Linked DNA regions of Homo sapiens: region 2 is linked to region 1. Evidence: fine-mapped expression QTL. Tissue or cell type: whole blood. Region 1 holds a variant in brackets; the other region holds the start of a gene. All regions are shown on one strand. Distances are between the middles of the regions.

Evidence for each region. PIP is the estimated chance that this variant, and not a neighbour inherited with it, causes the effect.
Region 2: it holds the start of REELD1, and the variant in region 1 is fine-mapped to the expression of REELD1 in whole blood (TOPMed, PIP above 0.99).

Annotation. Positions count from the first base shown.
Region 1 is chr4:146,184,821-146,195,782 of GRCh38, forward strand. LSM6 (LSM6 homolog, U6 small nuclear RNA and mRNA degradation associated) reads left to right here. Exons shown (of 4, transcript NM_007080.3): 3 at 2,454-2,567; 4 at 4,802-6,715. The coding sequence ends at 4,836. Among named protein-coding and RNA genes, the nearest start is that of LSM6, 15 kb to the left of the region's middle. The variant A/G (reference allele first, on the strand shown) is at 4,960.
Region 2 is chr4:146,209,540-146,220,501 of GRCh38, forward strand. REELD1 (reeler domain containing 1) reads left to right here and starts at 4,999. Exons shown (of 8, transcript NM_001354631.1): 1 at 4,999-5,155; 2 at 5,537-5,659; 3 at 7,403-7,621. The coding sequence starts at 7,414.

The DNA.
Region 1 (10,962 bases):
AAAGTATATAGAAGAAAGCCAAGGATCCCCAATGCTACTATCCAGAGACAGTTTACCAATTTTGACCTCTATATTAGCATAATTTGACATAAATGGAGTCAACTACATGCAACCTGATTTTTTTTTTAAACGTTGAAACAGTACATTTAGTTTTGTAATAATATAGAGGGTTTAATGGCTGCATAGGAATCTCTTGTGTGGCTGTACCATGGTTTTGCTTTTACTGTTAACCAATTTCCTATTAATGGACATTTAGGTGTTGACCAGTTTTTTGCCACTATAAACAACTCTTCTACTTTGACATATATTGTGAAGTTGACCAAACATCTCTTTAGAATCAATTCCCTGGGCTAGGATTTACAAGTCAGAGAGTATTCCATGGCCCTGCATCAGGGAACTTGGGTTTATCCTTCATGTTCTCACCAACTCTTGTATTAGCTTTTTTTCATCTTTTCCAATCTAATTGGCAACAAGTAATATCTCATTCTACATATATTTTCTTTGTTTACTAGTGAGATTCAGGAGTCTTTCACATGGATAGTAACCATAATTTTTTTTCCTCTTATGAATGGCCTTTATACTATTAAAGCAAAATGTTTTATACTATTAGATAGCCTTACTAAAGGAACGTGCTTATTTTGTGGTTTACAAAACCCCAAAAAACCCCAAAGCAAAACAACAACATACCAAAAAAAAAAAAAAAAGAAAAACTCCAGCAACTCTCTGTAGCAGTTTCTCTTTGAGAAAATGTCTTGTTTTTGGTTTTGTATAGTAGTTTATCTCATGGAAGGAAAGGGTTGTATTTCTAACCCCCTGGGCAGTTTTTTTGTTGTTGTTGTTGCTTGTTTGTTTGTTTGTTTGTTTTTGCCTTTGCTGTGAGAATAGATATTTTAATTAGAAGTGAACTCTTTTTTTTTTTTCTTTTTTCTTTTTTGAGACCGAGTCTCACTCTTTCGCCCAGGCTGGAGTGCAGTGGCTCAGTCTTGGCTCACTGCAACCTCCGCCTCCCAAGTTCAGACGATTCTCCTGCCTCAGCCTCCCAAGTAGCTGGGATTACAGGCACCTGCCACCATGCCTGGCTAATTTTTGTATTTTTAGTAGAGACGGGGTTTCGCCATGTTAGCCAGGCTGATCTTGAACTCCTGACCTCAAGTGATCTGCCAGCTTCTACCTCCCAAAGTACTGGGATTACAGGCATGAGCCACTTTGCCCAGCCTGGACATTTCATTTTGAAATTCTTTTCATTGGTTTTCAAACAGGTTTGCATATTGTGCCTCAGATTTTTCTTGCTCATTTATAATTGCAGTTTGTATGTAAAATAGTACAGCAGGAAACGAGCTAAAGTTGTAGCTTAAGCTTTCTTTTGCTAGGAAATAATTTTATTATTCACAGTCCATTCTCGTTCTTTGAGAGTTTACCGCTTTTAGCAGAATTCTGGTAGATTAATGTCTTTTGCTGTCATTACACAATTTTGAAAGGAAACTTTTTTGTTTAGAGGATAATGGGGGCAGAGGCAGAGAGTGAGGAGCATATTAATGAAGTTAAGACATCAAATGAGAAACTATAGACTCGACTGAATTGAATCTAGTATTTGTTTTTACTTAAATTTTTTTTTCTAGGAAATACCACTTTAAATTAGAGACAGAATTAGAGGCTTACAGATTTTCATCTTTTGAAAAAGATCATCAGGTCAAATTTTACAAAATTTATACCATCTTAACACAATTAAAGATTGACTCAAACTGTTTCCTTGAAAGCTCCCTCGAATGTTTTTGGCCATTTTCTCTATTAGTTTTGATTGGAAAATATTATAGCTGTAACAAAACAGAACAAGATGTGTTATAATGCAATATGTTGCCCTATATTCTCAAGCTGCTCTTCACTGTGAGTCACAGCTTTAAGATGTTCTTTCGGGAGCACCTGCTGTCTCCTCTTCTATTATTTTAACAGATTGTGGAGACTTCCTTTTAACCCTGGAGTACATTCATCTGCTGCAATAGATGTTGTAAAAGAATGAAATAAATCTGCCAGACCCGTATTTCACTTAGTGGCTAAAGTAGGAAATGCCACTGGAACCAAGGATCATTTGTTTATGCATAATTGCCCACCTTGTGCTTAGCTTTCAAAGAATGGTATTTTTGCCGGAATAGTCTTATTCTCTTACTTTTTTGAATGCTTTAAAAGTTTCTGTGTGGTCATACGTACCATGAGGGAAGTGACAGTTTGTTGTTTTACCGGGTAGTAGTGGGTGCGTGACTGCCTTCCTAGACTTCATTCAGATTGGCATAGAGTTGTTTTGTGCTTAAGCTGTTGAGTTTCATTTATGGTGTGAATTTTTATATTAAGCATCTAAGAACTAATGAATAAAGAGATTGTCTGCTCTAAGGTATACCCTGTAATTTTCAACTCTTATTTGCCTTGTGTATCTTCTTTTTGACTAAATATGTCTGCAGGGGTCCTGGCTTGCCTGGATGGCTACATGAATATAGCCCTGGAGCAGACAGAAGAATATGTAAATGGACAACTGAAGAATAAGTATGGGGATGCATTTATCCGAGGAAACAATGGTAACATTTCTTCGCCCTACAGTACAGCATTCAAAATAAGCCTTTCTATTTATAATCCAGATCACCAAAGAGGTTTCTAGATAATTTAAAAGTCCACTTTTAGGCTTGATTATTTTAAAATGCTTATATGTCAGATCTTCAGTTTGACCAGTTATTTTGTAGATGCTTCATGGAATTTTGAAACCAAAATTCTCTCCTTCCCTTCCTTTAGTGATGAGGAACTGAGGGACATTGTTCTCCTTACCTGGAACCCTGCTTTCTCGAATATAGTGTAGTATATCTCCCCAACACATATTCCTGCTTCTTGTAGCCTGGAAGTTGGAGATGTAAGAATGGGCACCGTTTCCCTGCTGTCTTTGATTTGCATAATTTGGCAGTTCGTCCTATTTGTCCCTTCTCTATTAAACATTCAGATGCTTTCTATGCAGATTTGCATCCTTCAGTTTGGCAAAAATGGCAAAATAGAAAAAGTTACTCAGTTTTTAACAACTAATAAATTGCTATGATTTTTATAGTTATTTTTAAGTACCTAGTTTAAAAATGAAAATTATAATAAAGTCATATTTGTATTTTTGGTGGGGAGGGAAAGATATCAGAATTATGAGAATTACCCCACTTTTTGGTTCCATCTCCCAGAAACTCTGGGATTCTTGAGTTCAGATTTTTTGTTGATTTCTTTAATTCTGGATGTCTTCAACCCCCTAAATAGTTGGATCTCTTTGCTATAAACTAAACTTCCTGACTTTTATAATAAGAGTCTGTCCCCTATGCTTACAGGACCTTATTTCTTCATATCATATTTTTACATACATTATTTCCTGGCTTTCTAGTCCTTTCTATTTATAGAATTATTTATCCTATTTTTCATATCCTTATTTGACCTCCTCTTTTTCCTAAGAAATGTTATGATCTTGTCTCACCTCAAGACAGCTAATGGCAGCAGTCACTGGCAGGTTGGGTTCTGTGCGTGTTGATAGGGTAGATCCTTTAACGTGCACACTACCCCTAGGACTTGGGGGGCAGGGTTGGGGGGCGGCTGTACTGGCATTCTGATGCTTCCCTTCATGTCACATTTCCCATGATGTAATCAGTGACACTCATCTTTAGACTCCCAAGTTCACATCATTGGCTCTTAAAGAGGATCTTGACTTATTTGATTCATCTGTGCTATGTTCTTTGATGAAGACACCTTACTGTTCGCTTTGAGCAGACCTCTCAGAAGCCGAGTAGGCATGGAAGGTGGAAGGGAGAACCACCTCTAGTTTGGCCAAAGTGACCCAAGCATTTCATTTTGTTTCATTCCTACGGACCACACATCCTACGAGTTCATGTTGGTAGTCATGAGAAGACCACTAAGCAGAACATTAGGTAACACCAAAGTATGAGACTTTTAACGGGAACTCAGAATAAGGACTTTGGTATCATTAAAAAATAAAAATAAAAAATAAACTCCTTAGCTCTTGTTTATCCTGTTGCATTTAAGAAGGTAAACAGCAAGTTTAGAGTTTGTATTGGGGAGACAGATGAAAATATGTTGTTTATTCTTAATTTGAGATCTAGCCTGGTTAGATTTACTGATTTACTTTCTGAAAAGCATCTTTTTTTTTTTTTTTTTTTCCTGAGATGAAGTCTCGCTCTGTGGCCCAGGCTGGAGTGTAGTTGTGCAATCTCAGCTCACTGCAGCCTCTGCCTCCCAAGCTCAAGCAGTCCTCCCACCTCAGCGTTCTAAGTCGCTGGGACTACAAGTGCATATACCACCATGCCTGGTTAATTTTTTGTATTTTTGGTAGAAACGGGGTTTCACCATGTTGCCCAGGCTGGTCTCAAACTTCTGAGCTCAAGTGATCCACCCGCTTCAGCCTCCCAAAGTGCTAAGATTGCAGGCGTGAGCCACCGTGTTCAGCCCTGAAAAGCATAATTCTTATACTTCTAACTATAAAGCATTCTTAGATACCAGGGACTTTCACATATATTTTATTTTATCTTCCTGGTCACACTTTAAAGAGTCAGTGAGACACATGGATGAAATTAGGACAGTTTTGTAAGACATCAAACCTGGGTGTAGATTCATAAAACTAGTCTTACAGTACTTCTAGAGTTAATTGAATGATACGAGAATTCCTTTTAAATGTCAGATGTATCAGACCAAAATCTGTTGGCTTTTAAACTTGCTACTATGTATACTTACAAGCAGGGTTTTTTAAATTTCAATTTATGTATTTTTTTCTTTTCAGTGTTGTACATCAGTACACAGAAGAGACGGATGTGAAGACACCAAGAGAGCAACGCTTTTCATAGTTGGATATATTTTTTTATGAATTTTTTCTAATTTTTGCTTCTTTTGTGATACAATTTGTCCTCTTTTTATAATAGTTGGTGATTTTTCACTGAC[A/G]TGTGAGTAAGATAAATGTATACAATTGTGGATTTAATTGTGAAATGTTCTTTCACTTGTAAGTTTCAGTCATTTTCTTTTACCTCGTTGTCAGTGTACAGAATGCTAAAATAATTAAAAAAAGACAAAATATACCTCTTCCTACAAGATTATTTAACTTAAGTTTCGAGAAGTGTCATTTCATTTGACTTGCTTTTCTTATCCAGCTAAAATGATGCATATATTTTATATATTGTATGGACATATAATTAAAACATTTTGGAGGAATCCTCCTTTATTGCATCCTTTTCTGTTCATACAGAATCCTTGCGTGAATATGTTCTACAAAGGCATCCAGTTTCAGTCTGAAGCTACAAAAAGGGGCCACAGGATCAGAAGTTCAGCCACTGATTGAGTCACCTAAATAAAAAACAGAATTGGAAAGCCAAGAGTGCCACTTGCACATAAGGAGTGGGAATTCGAACTGAGGTGCTGGAGAAATCCTAAAGATGAACAAGATTTCAGTGAGGAGAAAGCCCTCCTGTCAGTGGTCCCCCTGCATCTCCTTATGCAATTAGACTTTTTAGGTTTCCCTGCTCCCTTTCAGGAGCATTGGCATCAACGTTATTCTCTCAGTTTATGAACACAGTAGGGGAGGGGCCATTCCTGTACATCTCTCACAGTCAGATTAAAGCAAAGCCTAGAGTTTGTAAACATAATTCAGGTTCTAATTGCCGAGCTGAGATTGGGAAAGAATTTTTCCTAACTCTGGTCTAGCAAGTGGCTGTAGGGAGGCCTTTCTCAAAAATCAGCTGTATTTGCCTTTGACATTGTCCAGGAGCAGAGCACCAGGCTTTATGTTGCTTGGCACAAGGCAGCTCCTCTGGTTATGTGACTCCTGCTGAGAGGATTTTCACAATTTATTAATGAGCTTTCCACAACCCTGCTTTATTCTCCAAACAGTTTTACGCTGTCTCTAGGAACAACAAATATATCTGGGCACTGTGGTTGAATGAATACCAGACAATTGTGTGAATGTTGTATTGGACTTCCTCTTCCCTCCCTTCCCAATCTAAATAGCATTCCTATTTCAGGAGCCGATGGTGTGATTCGAAACAACTGCTTGGTTGAAGGATGGGGGGCAGGATCGAGAAGGAGAGAGGGAAGGGGCAGTGCTGATTCTGGAGAGGTGTATGTAGTGTTTTGTCTTGGTTTATTTTAAAGATCAGAGAGTAATTGGAAACAATTATTTTTTAATTAATAACTTGGGAAAGGTGAACAGAAGCATTTCACAGGGTTTTACCGTGTGCACACTGAAAATAAAACACTTTATGCTATGCTTCAATAATTTATCACTTCTTGACAGGGGCTTGGAAAAGGTCCAGTATGTAAGTACAAATCACCAATTTGCTCTTTTATAAATGAGTTCTTTTAAGGAGAAAATGGATGGCTCTCCAAGTGGAGCATACATGTTCTCATTTGTTTTGTAGAATATGTGGGGCTGCAGGTTATTGTGTCCCTTCATTCACTTATATCAGCCACCTCTAAAAGCAATTCCATTGTAGTCTCCCACTAATCTGTAGCGTCCTGTTTTTTCTAACTTCTTCCCTGACCTCGCCTTTGATATATAAGTCTTTATTTTCCCCTTGCCATCTCTCTAGTTTAATAGCTCTACAGTGGAGTACTGTTTTCAACCATGGAACTACTTTTAATCAAGATCAACTTTGGGAAGTGCTGCCATTTTTATGGTAATAAAGGACTGTATTATGCACTTGAACCCGCTCAAGTTGTCCCCTGTGTATACCTTCACATAGTAGAACCATGAAACAAAGTGTAAATGCTTAAATTGCTTTGTTCTTAACTGTAGTCTCCTAGAGGTCAGTGAATGATTTCTAGTTGCATTGTAGCGAAGACATTTGTTCCAGGTTGAAGAATTTTTTACTTGAGAACATACATTTTCCCTGTCTGTGTGCCCCCAAACCCTGTCTGCCACACTCTTTCTCTTGGGCTGTGACAAAACAGAATGTTTAGCGAGAAACAAAATTGTGCTCGATTTTCAGACTATCTGACTTCATTTTCTGTTTTGGTCTTTGAGCTATTCCTTGGCTAATCTTCCAACAAGTCGAATTGATTCTTATTTCAAAACTGTTTATCCCAAAACAGAGCTGTTGACAAGTACAAATACAGATGGCAGACATGTGGTATGATTTTCATGTTCTCATCTCAGCATTCAGGAAGGGAATGTTATTGAAAGATGGTTTACATCTGAAGCTTTCTGCTCAAGGCAATATGGAATGCATGCTAGGAGCGCTTAATTATGCTTAATTAATAATAGTAACAAATGCTTACGGGATTTCCTTAAGGTCTAAAAGTGCAGCAGCATTGGACTTGCTGTGTAAGGCTTACCGCCCCGGAGGCTATAATAATCTGTAACAATAGAAGCAACCTCTAGGGGGTAAAATTGTCTTTGATAATCACTGACTCTTGGGTGACCTCAGTACAGCATTCCAGGCCAAAGATCCAGAATGTTCCCTTACTGGGGGCAGACACGCCTATGATTGCACTGACCTTTGTCCTCCGAGCAGATGATCCTCCAGAGTACTGGCTAGCTCTTAGATTCAGAGGTAAATCCCAGCCCATGCTGTGGCCTTGCTGTTCCCCACAGCCCAACTGCATTAACTATAATTTTTTTTTCTCCACAAAAAGAAATTGTTGGTGAAAGGAAGACAACCTTCAGTTTTTCTCCCCACCGACCTGGTTTCAGGAGGCCGTGTGCTCAGTGGAGTGTCTCTGCCTGTCTTCGCTAAGCTTGCCCCTGACCATTGTGGAGGTAGATGCCACCTAAGAGTGGCAGGGTTAGTCCTGACCTCTGGGGTCTGAATATCCAGCAACTATCTTAATTCCAGTCGCTGCTGTCTGTTGTACCACCAGTACACAGCAGTACAGCTGTGTCTCTGTTGTTGACCGACTAACTTAGATTCACTGTTGAAGTCCAATTAGCCAGAGTGGGGGTGAAAATGCAAGAGTGGACGGTGAGAGTGGTATGTGTCATGTACGACAGGACAGTGGAGAGAGCCCTCTCTGATACCTGTTAGTCCCTCCTTTAAAAGATGCGGGAGGTGGCCAGGGAGTGGGGATTTCAGAATGTGGTGGCAGAAATCAGTTTGGCATTTATTGGATGACAGCTGTAGGCAGGCACTGTGCTATACCTTAGGGGGGTAGATAAAAAAGGAAATATGACATTGCACCTTCCATACTGAGTTTGTAGGTTTGGGTATTTATGGGGGAAAGTGGTACCCTCCATCCTTTTTTTAAAAAATTGGGCCAAAATTGTAAGAATTCTTTTAAAAACCTGAACATTTTAGATGGATTTGAGCATCTCAACTGTATGTTCGTATCTTGAAATTCCAAATAAACTCAGGAGTGGATAATTCTGAAATCTGAACGTAACTATGCCCTGTTTACCCACAGGCCCAGGTAGTTCAGCCTCCCATCTTTGTTTTTTTCCTTCTCCTAGAAAAGCCAGCTTTTGTGTGGTTTAACTGAACAGTCATGTTGGATTTTTTTTTATTTGAAGACCCATTTTGACTCATCTGCAGCACTGAAGGATTTTCTTCATAGTAATTTGGGAGTTATAGCAGATAGAAAGGCAGAGGCATATTCCAGGAATTTCATGAAATATAAAACACTGAAACACTTGGGATAGGCTAGTTTTCAATGCCTAGGTTACACAAATGTCCAAATTCACATGGGCTTAATTTATTCCAAGTTTTATAATGGGATGGATGTTGGTGAGTTTGGCAATATACCAATAATTTGGATTAAAGGAGAGGTTAGTTTATGAAAAGTTTACGTAACAATCTTAGGCAATTTTATTACCATCATGTGCATACGGTATTTCAAGTCACTATTCAGTGTTTATATCAAATAGACGTTTTATTGAACTTGGAAAAATGAAAAAATTAAAAATGTGTAATATGTACGGTAGAGTGGATGTTGCTGGGATACAGGGCTCCTTATACCCCGCCCACAGTAGTGTGTTAGTCACAAACCCCAAATCTCAGTGGTTTGAAACAACTAATGATCTTACTTATGCTCCATGTGCACAGGGGCCCATAGGTGGGACTCCACTGATTGCAGTCACCTGGGGGCCCAGGCCGAGGGAGGTAGCACCTTATGTTTCCACCATCTCAACCTGAGGAATCAGCATCTGCTGTGGCAGGGGAAGGGCAGAAAGGATCACTCCCTGGCTCCTAAAACCTTTTGCTTAAAGCTAGTGTCACTTCTACCCCATTATTAGGCAAAGCAAGTTACACGGTCAGGGCTTACTTTAAGTTTTCAGAAAAGTATAATCCTTTCATGGACCCAGGAGAGACAACCAGAAATACTGGTGAACAGTGGTAGTAACCTACCACATGATGTGTACTAGTCATGGTTCCTCCAGAGAAACAGAACCAATAGGATGTATAGAGAGATTTTAAGGACTTGGCTCCCACAATTGTGGAGGCAAGCCCAAAATCTGCAGGGTAGGCTGGCAGCCTGGAGACCCAGGGAAGAATTGCCACTCAAGTCTGAAGGCTGGCTGCTGGAAGAACTCCCTTTTCCTCCAAGGAAGTCAGTGTTTTCCTATTAATGCCTTCAACTGATTGGATGAGGCCCACCCACATTATGGGGGGTAGTCTGTTTTATTTACTTTAAATAGGTCTACTTATTTAAATGTTAATCTCATCTTTAAAAAATAGCTTCATAGCAACATCTAGAGTAATGTTTGACCAAATATCTGGGTACCATGGCCTAGCCAAATTGATACATGAAGTTAACTATCATGGTATGTTAACCATATCCTTTGCATTATACATTTTCTTAATCATTAGTAAAGCATTCAGAAGTATAAAGCATCGGTGTGATTTTTACTATATTGAAAAAAGAATTCTTTCTTTGTTAAGACTTGGGTTGAGGGACCTGTGCTCTTGGTGTCTTAATCTATTTTTCATTAGATTCCAAAGAAAATAGTAACTGGTTTCTTCATGGTTTCAGAAGCTGAGTCTGAATAGATTGTTTTGGTTTGGTTTTGTTGCTGCAGTTTAATTTACAATTTTCCAATTAATATATTCCTATATTTAAAAGAAAATGCAGAAGGTGACCATCTTTCATTAGACCAGGTAATTTTATCTCAAGCCAACCAAATGTGTTCCATCCACATACTGTGAGGAGATGATCATGGAGTCTTTAGTATACCTCAGAACTTGCCTCATGTAAAATGTGTCTCAAAGGCACAGGGCATGTTACAGCTAAAACTTTACCTTATCACTTTTCATACAGTGGGTTTTTATGGCTCTCCCTTTTCAGTATATTCAAAACTCTTTACAAGTATCTTCCTCCTGAGAAAGTGCATGTGTTCCTGTCTTGTTCAAAGATGTCCCATCAACAGGACCTGATCTCCAGTTTGCTTTTGTCTTTTTCCTAATTGTGATATTCTTGGCAGAGCCTGCTTCACACCCTGTTCCTTGTCCCCCTGGCACTGACATAGATAGATTTCTGAGATGATTTCTCCATGCTGGGAGTGCAGTAGAGGAGACTCATGAGGATCAGACCTCCACCTTGGTTTCATTAGCCAACTAAGCTAATCCTCACATTCTCCTCTCGTAGTCACTGAACAAGGTAGTCCCTTTTTCCACATGAGGAAACCTGAAGCAAAGAGGTTAAAGTGACTTGCCGAGGGTCACTTGGTGAGTCGCTGCAACTACAGTAACAGTTCCTTCTGCTATTTGATCAAGTGCATAGGTGTGGGCTCCATTGATTTCTTCTTCTAGCATGCATTTAATTAATAAATCAATCTTCTCTTCTGATTCATCCTACCAGTAGTCGAATGAAGAAGGTCCCAAAGTGTGCACACAGACTGCTGTCCTCTACATTCAAAGATGATGTTGCTGACAGTGATTTGCTATCATCCTGCTTGAGTGTGACAGGAAATATCAATAGTTGGCCAACAGCCCTTTATACACCGGGCCAAGGTAGAAAACT
Region 2 (10,962 bases), 25 kb after region 1:
GAATAAATGCTCAGAGTACATTTCCAGTGTAACTAAAATTGAATGCCACCAACTCCCCTCTTTTGGACATAAATTATAGTACTTGTCCAGACTCCCTAAATGCCAATTTTTGATCCCCACTTTGCCTCCATACAAAAGGTCTCCAAGTCTTACTTCCATTTACTCTCTCAACATCTCAGTCCCCACTATCCTGCGTCAAATGCACCTCATTTTATGTCTGGATAATTACTACAAACACAGCTAGTGTTCACACCTTTGTTCAAACTCTCTCTCCTGCTTTGAATATCCTTTTACCCATCTCATCTGTCTAAACTCCACCTAACCTCTAAAATCAACCATATTTTCCTGATTCTACTTGAAATATTCTGGCATCCCAGACTCTGGTAACCTGGCTTTTATCTCTCTTCTGATCATAGCTTGTTTACTGCTCTGCATCACTGCTAGAGAGCATCTAATCCTTACAACACCTTTGTGAGAAATCTAATAGTCTCCCCATTTTGCAGATGGTAAAACTGAGGCTCACCAGCATTAACTTTCCAAGGTCATGTAACTAGTTTGCTGTCTGACTTCAGAGCTCTTTCTTCTTTACCTTGCTACCTCACCCCAAGTAAAATGTCAGTTCCTAGGGAGAAGATCCTGCCGATACTTTATCAGCAGACTCTCTTGCAAGTTGCTTTACAAATAGTAAGAATTCAAATATTAATTAACTTAGAAATCCTGTTTGACTGTACTGTTCTTTAACAGGGATAATGAAGGAGAGGATTATTGGGTAGAATAAAAGCACTAGGCTGGGCACAGTGGCTCACACCTGTAATCCCAAGATTTCGGGAGGCAGAAGCAGGAGGATTGCTTGAGCCCAAACAGGAGTTTGAGACTAGCCTAAGCAATATGGTGAAACTCTATCTCTACAAAAAATACAGAAATTAGCCAGGAGTGGTGGCACATGCCTATATTCCCAGCTACTCAGGAGGCTGAGGCTGGAGGATCACCTGAGCCTGGGAGTTGAGGCTGCAGTGAGCTGTGATTGCACCATTGCACTCCAGCCTGGATGACAGAGTGAGACCTTGTCTCAAAAGAAAAAAAAAAGGCACTCAACTTTTTTTTTTTAAATGGCAGAAAGTGCACAGTAGCATGGAGGATGATGCAAAAGTCAGCAGACCTGCTAAACGTACATGAATGACCATTGACTTCCCACTTTCATGTAGAGTTTAAAGAGAATTGTATTTTTCTCTTACATAGATTATCCCAGCACTCCAGAAATCTTCAGATAGTTTTAAAAAATCTATCTAAACATTAAAATGCTAATCACAATGATGATACTGGAATAGCAGATTTCTATGTAAAAACACCAGTCAATCTCAGCAGGAAGTCATTACCAAGGTAGGAAAAACATTTGGATAGGAAAGACTGTTCATGAGTTACAAAAGCCATTATCTTCATCTCCAAGATCTTTGAAAATGAAGAAAATGTCCACTTGTCTGCTGGAGTGAAGGAGCAGGAAACAGGACTAGAATAGTGAGCTCAACAGGTTCCTCCTTCATTTGCAAACTTTTCCAAGGCAGACTCTTAAACCAGGAGTGAGTGTGGGATGGTGTCAACGCAGGTTATAATTACGTGCCAGACTTTAATGCATGCCATCTCAAGCTGTTTTAAGAGTAGCTCATTCTTATGCCTTTATAACTAAAATAAAACCTTGAAAATGTGTATCATTTTCTTGCTGGAAGAAATAGAAGAGATTATTTAATTCAAACCTTTTTATTTTATACCTGAGGCAACCCAGAGAAGTTAAGTGATTTACCGAAGGACACAGAGTATCTGATTTATAACCATAAAACCCACCCCAAGACTTTCCCTTGGTATGACGTTAATATTAACTGTTCTACTCAGGGCCAGGGGATGTTAAGGTAACAGATTCAATCATGTTAATATATCAAGTCCAGCCAAATTGCTAGTGTGAAATGACCTCAAGCAGATTCCCAAAATAAAAGCAACAAACAAACAAAACACAGTATTTTCTTGCTTTCCGGGTGCACACAGCTGGGTCTCCTTCATGTGGGTGGGGATTGGAGGCCAACTCACTGCTGTCTCTCGGGCTTCGGGCTTAGCGCATGATCTGGCTCAGAGCCACACTCTCTCACCGCCTCCTCTCCGTGGTGGGCACCAACCCTCTCTGTGGCTCAGCCAGCTTTCTCTTTCCCCAGACAAAACAGGTACAGAGCCCTTCCTTTGTCTCAAACCCCATACTAAGTACCAACTCCTTATTATTTATTACCTCACTGAAACTTCACCAGCACTTCGGGATGCAGGTACAGGAACTGGTAGTTATCTTCATCTTGTAGATTATGTTACAAAGCTATTCTATAGCAAAACTGTAGGGAAAAACCTTATCTATCACTTCCTGAATGCTGTGGGAACTTTTGGCAAGTTACAGAAACACTGTGACTCAGTTTCCTTATCCATAAAATGAGATAACAATAGTGCAGACCTCATTGTGTTGCTGTATCGATGAGGTAATTTGCCAACTAGCTGACTAGAATAGTGTGTGGTACTGTGCAGGCATTATATAAATATGCTGTTATGTTTAATTACTATCCTGTCCCCTCAATGCCTCTTACACATCCTGCACGTGGTACAATACGGCCTCAGGTCTGACCCCACACCATGACCTATGGCTCAACCACCTTCCTTTGTACAGACCTGCGCTGATAAATATGGTAGCAGCTTACCACATGTGGCTCCGGAGCACTTGAGATGTGTCTAGTCTGAATTGAGACGTGCTGTAAGTGTAAAATACCACTGGATATCAAAGACTTACTGTGAAAAAAAGAATGCAAAATATCTCACTAATGATATTTTATATGCTGATTGCATGTGAAATGTTTTCAATATATTGAATTGACTAAATTTATTATTAAAACAAATGTCTTTTGTTCCTTTTCACGTTTTTTAAAAATAAGGAGAGTCCAATTTTTTTGTTTGTTTGTTTTTGAGACAGGGTCTCACTCTGTCGCCCAGGCTGGAGTGCAATGGCAAGATCTCAGCTCACTGCAACCTCCACCTCCCAGGTTCAAGCAATTTTCCTGCCTTAGCCTCCAGAGTAGCTGGAATTACAGGCACGTGCCACCATCCCTGGCTAATTTTTGTATTTTTTGGTAGAGATGGGGTTTCAACATGTTGGCCAGGCTGGTCTTGGACTCCTGACCTCAGGTGATCTGCCTGTCTTGGCCTCCCAAAGTGCTGGGATTACAGGCGTGAGCCCCTGCGTCCGGCCTAGAAAATTTTAAATTACATATGTGGCTTGCATTCTATTTCTATTGGCCAGCACTCGTATAGAGTAGCCTTGTATGTGTTCTTGGTCAGATTCCCAGGGAGAGTTTCTGTCTCAGCCCTGAGTCAGCAGGGCCCTCGCCTGTGATGAATGCCCCCCTGGTACAATCAGCTTTGTCGGGAGAGTGGCATAAGATGCGCTGCCGGCTCAGCAGAGGCTGTGGGTGTGGCAGGCAGGATAAGGCCATGTCTAAGATATGGTGTCCTCCTGATTTTCAACAAGAAATATTACATGAGCAAATGGCAGGATTATTTATTGAGCCATGCAGGTGCGCTCTCTCTACCTTTGCACTCCTCTCCTCATTCTAATTGGTAGTTGGGCCTTTTGAGAATCCGTATATCCAGGGAGTTTGTGTTTCAGGGGCAAAGCTGAGGTGTTGGAGATTACCACTCTACCTGTGGTAGGTGGATTATGCCAGGTGGCCCAGGGTAATGGGGTGAGAGTAAAAAAAAAAAGGAGAGGAGGGACACTTTTGTCTCTAAGACTGGGATAGGAGCAGAGTGGAGTGGAGAAGAGGTTAGCCACTCTCCTGCTAGGGGCAGAGATCTGTGTCAGGACCCAGTGGAGGGGGTGGGAAGAACCCAGGCCACAGCCTTGCTGAAGACCTGAGCCCCTTTTTGGCATAGAAGCCTTCCAACTAACAGTCTTCAAGTGACCACATGAGCTCTGAAAACTATCATAACAGCAGCCATGGAAGGAATGTATCCTAATTTTCTAGACCTCCCAGAATTTCTCATGACTCAGTGGGAGATTGAGATTGCCTCCAATCCTAGTGGGATAGAAGCTTAGAGAAACCAAATTGAATTTGTTTGCTTTTGTTCTGTGTGTGGGGAATACTGGTATCCTAGGCCAAGGAAGCCCAATTTCCCTTGGTGTTTATAGGATAGATAGTCTCATTTACACTTGCAACAAAAGGCTTAGCAACCTGGTCCCTAAGCCAGTGCCTTGCCTATTCAGTCACTCATAGCTTTAGTTTTTTCTGAGTGGAGACAAGGCCTAACAGTCAGAACATTGCTCTCTCTGCAGCCCCCTACTCCACATCACCCAGGACTATCAATCCTAGGATTCTCTCTTGGACGCCTTGCATTCAAACAGCCACCAAATCCTACCTCCACCTGATCTCCTGATCTCCCAAATCCATTCCTCTCTCTTTTTCTTCATTGTTAATGTTGCAAGCTTCTAGGTGATGCTGGTGTTGCACTCTAGGGACCACACATTGAGGAACACTGATCTATAGGCTCTCTGGTATTATCAGGTGTCTCAGCAGATTCTTAGATGAATGAAAATGTGAACTCCAGCTTTAGTGCAATTGATACGGGAGGTGCCTATGCCACGTGTTATTTTTTTGTACCAAACGTTGCTCTTGGGCTAACGTATCAATTCTATTTCACCAAGAGTAACTTCAGTCCACACTGACTCAAGAAGCCAAGAATGCTGAGATGCATTTCATTCAAACATTCTCCCCTTTGCAGGGAGATCAAGATGGAGGCATCCAGCTTCTGCCAAGGATGTCAGTGCCAGTCCTGTGCAAAACCAGTTCCGGTTCTTTCTAGTTCTTCACGCAGGCTTGAACAATGATGTGACTGTAAACCGTGTGTGTGTGTGTGTGTGTGTGTGTGTGTGTATGTGTGTGCTAATACGATTTAGGTTGGATTTGGACACTGAGGAACAGTTCCTGGAGATGCTGAGGATTAGTGGTAGCAGCTGTTATTCTCCCCATTAGAGGAAAAACTGAAAGGAGAAGAAAATACTTATGTTTAAGGGATGTGTTTGCAACTCTGCGGGAGGAAGCCATTCTATCAAGCCTGAAGAAAACTGTGTTCCTAGGTAAGTGGATGTTTTTATTTATTTATTTTTGTAGAGACAAGGTCTCCCTGTGATGCGCAGGCTGGTTTTGAACTTCTGGCTTCAAGTGATCTTCCTGCCTCGGCCTCCCAAAGTGCTGGGATTACGGGTGTGAGCCACCATGCTCAGCTCCAAGTGGATAGTTTTCAGGGTTCAGGTAGACAAGATGCTAGTGGGAAAGAAGACACAGTGAAACCTAAGGCAGGAGGGTGGGAGGTGGGGCTGTGGCCGTAGTCTGTGAGTCCAGGCACTCACTCCCCTTCCCTTGTAGGCAACTGTGTCTGATCTGCCTTTGGAAAGACCACTTGCCATCAGCAAGGACTTGAGGAGCATTTTCATTTCATTTCTTTCTTTTCTTTTAAGAGACAGGGTCTTGCTCTGTACCCAGGCTGGAGTGTAGTGATGTGATCATAACTCACTGCAGCCTCGACCTCCTGGATTCAAGTGATCCTCCTGCCTCAGCCTCCTGAGCAACTGGAACTATAGGTGCGCACCACCATGCCCAGCATTCAAGGGGCATTTTGTATGTGGCCCTTATGAAAGAAAATGAGAAGAACCCTGAGCCCCCTTGACTGAGAATGTGCTTTTACACAGTTCATCTTCATTATCTCCTAATGTGTCTGAGAAGCTGTAGCCATGGTTCCTTGTAGTATGGAGATGTGTGACTTTGGTGCTTCATAGAAAACAAACTTAGAAAAGAAAGGCATTGTCTGAAGGACTCTTATGTCTAAGAAATTTGAGGTATAGATCATATTCCTGTCTTCTTTTAGCTTGTGAATGTAAAAGGTGGTGTTGTGTGAAGAGACAATGGGAGTGGAGGACACTTGATTATTTGGTTTATGGATTATTTCCTTAGTCTATTGTTCTGATAGCTAGTTTTACTACATTTTCAGGATTTTATTTTCACCTTTTAAAACCAGCTGACTACAGGGGAGGGCATTTTTTTTTTTTTTTTTTTGCCTTGCATTGTTCCTTAGGTCAAAAAATTAGCCAAACTTCTAAAATGCCTGTGTGCAGGACTATAAAAAAAAAAACAGAACTTTTTTTTTTTTTTTTGAGATAGAGTCTCGCTCTTTTGCCCAGGCTGGAGTGCAATGGCATGATCTCAGCTCACTGCAACCTTGGTCTCCCAGGTTCAAGCAATTCTCCTGCCTCAGCCTCCCGAGTAGCTGGGACTATAGGCACATGCCACCACACCCAGCTAATTTTTTGTATTTTAGTAAAGACAGGGTTTCACCGTATTGCCCAGGCTGGTCTTGAACTCCTGTGCTCACGCAATCCACCTGCCTCGGCCTCCCAAAGTGCTAGGATTACAGGCGTGAGCCACCGCACCTGGCCTAAAACAGAACTGTTAAAAAATGCCTGTGATAATCCTAAATATTTATGTAGGCAGATTTTCATCTGCCTTGTTTGCTATCTCTCATTTTATTTTTGTCATCTTCTTTTACATTGCCAAATTTTAATTCTTCCTCTTGATGGGAATTAGAGGTAGTAAACAAAAATAAAATTTACTCTATAAATGCTATTTTATTCAATCATTGTATTCTATTCCTGAGCCAAAATTGTTATCAGTATGTTTAAGAAGTTATAGAATAAATTGAGTATTTCTTTCTCTGCTCATCTTCTTTACTAAAAGTAGTGAAATAGCTAAAAACAGCCAAAGAAAGGGCAAAGAGATATCAAAGCATTGCCAGCTTAACAGTCACTTCTAAATAATTGATAGTTGGTAGATGTTTTGTAGCACTTAACTTGGTAATTTTCAATTGCAACAGAGATAAGATGCTCAGCCAAGCCATCCCATGCCATGCTGCCTGACCATGGTGGTGTATTGAGTGTCTACTTCAGATAATGTATCAGAGGCCACACCGCCTTTGGGTACCAGTCAGCTTGCAAGGAGCTCACGCTAGGATACAAACATTTTCTGGTTTTATTTCTTTGACTCAATAATTAAAGCCTCTCTTTTGAACAACAACAAAAAAAGCAGTCTGGTCTTATGAGAAAATTACAAGAACAGAAGTTTTTAAAAAGGTGTTTGGAAATGAAACACTTCCTATAGCCTGGCATTTCCTTTTGATCTTGGCCTTGAACATTAGCAATCCTGGGAGGCTGCACTAAAAGCATCTCAGGTACAGAGGCAGTGTGGGGTTCAGGTTAGTCACATCCCGAGAAGACTTTATGTCGTTTTCCTAAATAACGTCTGGACTGAAGCTGCTGTTTGTCATGATACAGGAGAGGGCAGGATGAGGATGCAGGCTGCCCTCGTGGGCTGGGCTTGTACCACCCTCTGCCTGGCTTCCTGCTCATCTGCCTTTTCCCATGGTGCCAGCACGGTGGCCTGTGATGACATGCAGCCCAAGCACATCCAAGCCCAGCCTCAGCACCAGGACAGCCACCACATCACCATCCACACCCACAGGACTTCCTATGCACCAGGTGACAAGATTCCAGGTATGTACCAGAGAGGCTTAGAGAGACTCCGAGGAGCCCCAGAGCCCCCATGGACCTTCCAGTTTGTGTTTGTCCCAGTCAGAAGCTTCCTGGACTAAATTTGGCTTAATCCCTTTTTTTTGTTTTTTGTAGAGATGGAGTCTCACTGTGTTGCCCTGGCTGGTCTGAAACTCCTGGGCTTAAGTGATCCTCCCACCTCAGGCTCCCAAGAAGCTGGGACTACAGGCACATGCCACTGTGCCCTGCTAATTTTTTGTATTTTTTTTAGAGACAGGGTCTTTGTATGTTGCCCAGTCTGGTCTCGAGCTCCTGGGCTCAAGTGAACCTCCTGATTCAGCCTCCAAAAGTGCTGGGATTACAGGCACAAGCTACCATGCCCAGCCTGGCTTAATCTTAAGAAGCAATTATCAGGTTAAAAATAAGCATAAAATATTTGTGTCATAAAAACCACATGATAACTAATCTCTGTATTAATTGTGATCTGTATAAGAAGACACAAATATTATTATAGATAATTATTTTGTCCTTACCATAAGATATAAATGTATCTTATTACGGACACAAATATAGTTACTCTGAACAACCTTCATGTATCATCTATGTGTGTGAAATACACTTTTTTCTCATTATTTAAAACTAAAATTCATCCATCAACAGACACTTTGGTGAGATGATGGATATTTTAATTTGCTTGACTATAGTAACCATTTCACTATGTGTAAGTATATCAAAACATCATGTTGTATACTTTAAATATATACAATTTGACATTTTTTAAATTAAAATATTGGGGGATGAAAAAATCATTTCCTGTTCTTTTAGTTTAGGTGCCTATAAAAGCAGGGAAAGAACGTGAGCGCAGGTGGTTTATGTGAGAGATCATCCCAGGAAACACAGGTGAGGAAGAGGGAAAGGGAGCTGGGCAAGAGGAGATGCCAGTCAAGGGCGTGCAACTGAGCAGGTCTCTGCTGTGGGCAACCGAGGTGCATTCCAGTGGGGACCCTCTGAGAAGCCATGTGAAACACCTCTGAATCATCTCTCAGGAAGATGCAGGGGCAGGGAACTTACCAGTTTCGGGTTGCCCCCACCAGGGGTGTTTCTACCTCCATGCCCCGCCCCCACTCCCCAAACTCACACACACTCTTCAGAGTCCACAGCTTACCTTGGACCAAGCTTGGAAGTGGCAGTGAGGGACAGCAGAGAAGGAAGCTACAGATACTTCAGATGCCACGAAGTGTAGGCAGAGAACTATGCACCCAAGGTGAGCTCCAACACATCAGCAACTTTTGCCCTAAACCCCTCTTGATTTTTGCTGATTCTTTTGATAGGAACTAAAGGTGATAAACAAAAATGAAATTTACTCTATAAATATTGTTTTACCCATTCATTTCGCTCTCTTGAGAAGTGTGAAAAAACATGGGTGGATAGTATATGAGTTCAACATCAATATACTCCCCAATATACTGAATTAAGTCTATTCTAATAGAGCTTCCCAAACTTTGTCACATCATGACACAGAAAGTGAGTCTGTGTATTTAGCACACCGGGGCAAATGCAAGAGGCTCCCCAAGGAAGGCCACTTCTTTGGGGGCTCCATCCACCCTAGAGTGCATCCAGCCCCTCCCAGCATGAAGGGATTGGTATGTCAGTATCCTAGTGTTCTGTGGCTAGGGGAATAACAACGGTAAGAATCAAAACACTATGTCAGCCAGGCATGGTGGCTCATGCCTGTAATCCCAGCACTTTGGGAGGCCAAGGTGAGTGGATCACTTGAGCTCAGGAGTTTGAGACCAGACTGGGCAACATGGCAAAACCCTGTCCCTACAAAAAAAATACAGAAATTAGCCAGGCATGGTGGCTTGTACCCTGTGTTCCCAGCTACACTGGAGGCTGAGGTGGGAGGATTGCTTGAGCCTAGGAGGCAGAGGTTGCAGTGAACTGAGATAGCCCCACTGCACTCCAGCCTGGGTGACAGTGACAAAGTGAGACTCTGTCTCAAACAAACAAACAAACCCCAAACCAAAAAACCACTATGTCAGTGAGAAAAATCTGCAGAAATAACTAAAAATATTGTGATACCTAAATTCTGAAGGTATCCTGAGGGAAACACAATTGGATTGTAACTGGAACCAAGACAGCATATGTAATAAATGACTTGACAGAGTGCCTCATGGATTCAATGAGAGTCAGTTATTACTGACTTACGTTGCAAGTATACTGTTTTCTTGCCGGGATCTGTGAGCTCCTTGAAGGTAAGGACCATGTTATCCTGCTCATAGATACATACTCAACTCCTAGCATAGTGCTTGGTGTTCAATAGTTCTAAATATTTGTTCAAATGTTTATTAAGAAAAGTTCAAATGTGTGGAAAATAAAACAATCCTAGACACCAAGCTGCATTTAGCAAACTTATAAAGGTCTGACCCTGATTTTAGCCACTCATTCCCTTGAACATGAGTGGCTTTTTTAAAAAAAATTTTAAATAGCTTGAAGATATTACATGCTTTAAAAATGTTAGAATACTATCAAAAGGTAGAAAATTAAAAGTACTTTTCCTTCTCTGGCTCTGAACACTCAATTTGATTCCCCAGAGGTAACCTTTGTTAAGTTTCTTGCACCTCTTTTCAGAAGTTTTCCATGCATTTAAGCATATGTGAGTGAGATCTCAAATTAATATAATCTTAAGCAGACACAAATTAAATGTCTGTTTAATGTTTATATTTTTTACCTAACAATCAGACTGATATATTTTATTGGATACAGAATTTTGTTTTTTTGTTTGTTTTTTTGTTTGTTTTTTTAAGACAGAGTCTCACTCTGTCACCCAGGTTGGAGCGCAGTGGCGCAATCTTGGCTCACTGTAAGATCCACCTTCTGGGTCATGCCATTCTCCTGCCTCAGCCTCCCCAGTAGCTGGGACTACAGGCACCCACCACCACACCTGGCTAATTTTTTTGTTTTGTATTTTTAGTACAGATGGGGTTTCACTGTGTTAGCCAGGGTGGTCTCAATCTTCTAACCTCGTGATCCACCCGCCTCAGCCTCCCAAAGTGCTGGGGTTACAGGCGTGAGCCACCGTGCCCAGCCACAGAGCTTGTTTTTAATGATTTCATGACAGTCCATTGTCTAGAGGTCGCATGATTGATTTAACCAGTTTCTTATTTATGGGTATTTACTTTTTAAATTTTTTTCATAAATGGTTTTGATGGATATCTTTATTCATATGTCTTTGCTCACTGTATGCATCAAGATTGTTTTAGTTCCAAGTATCAGAAAAACTGATTAACAGAAACTTAATGAATAAAGACACTTAATTTTCTCTCTTAAGTGTGGAGGCACAG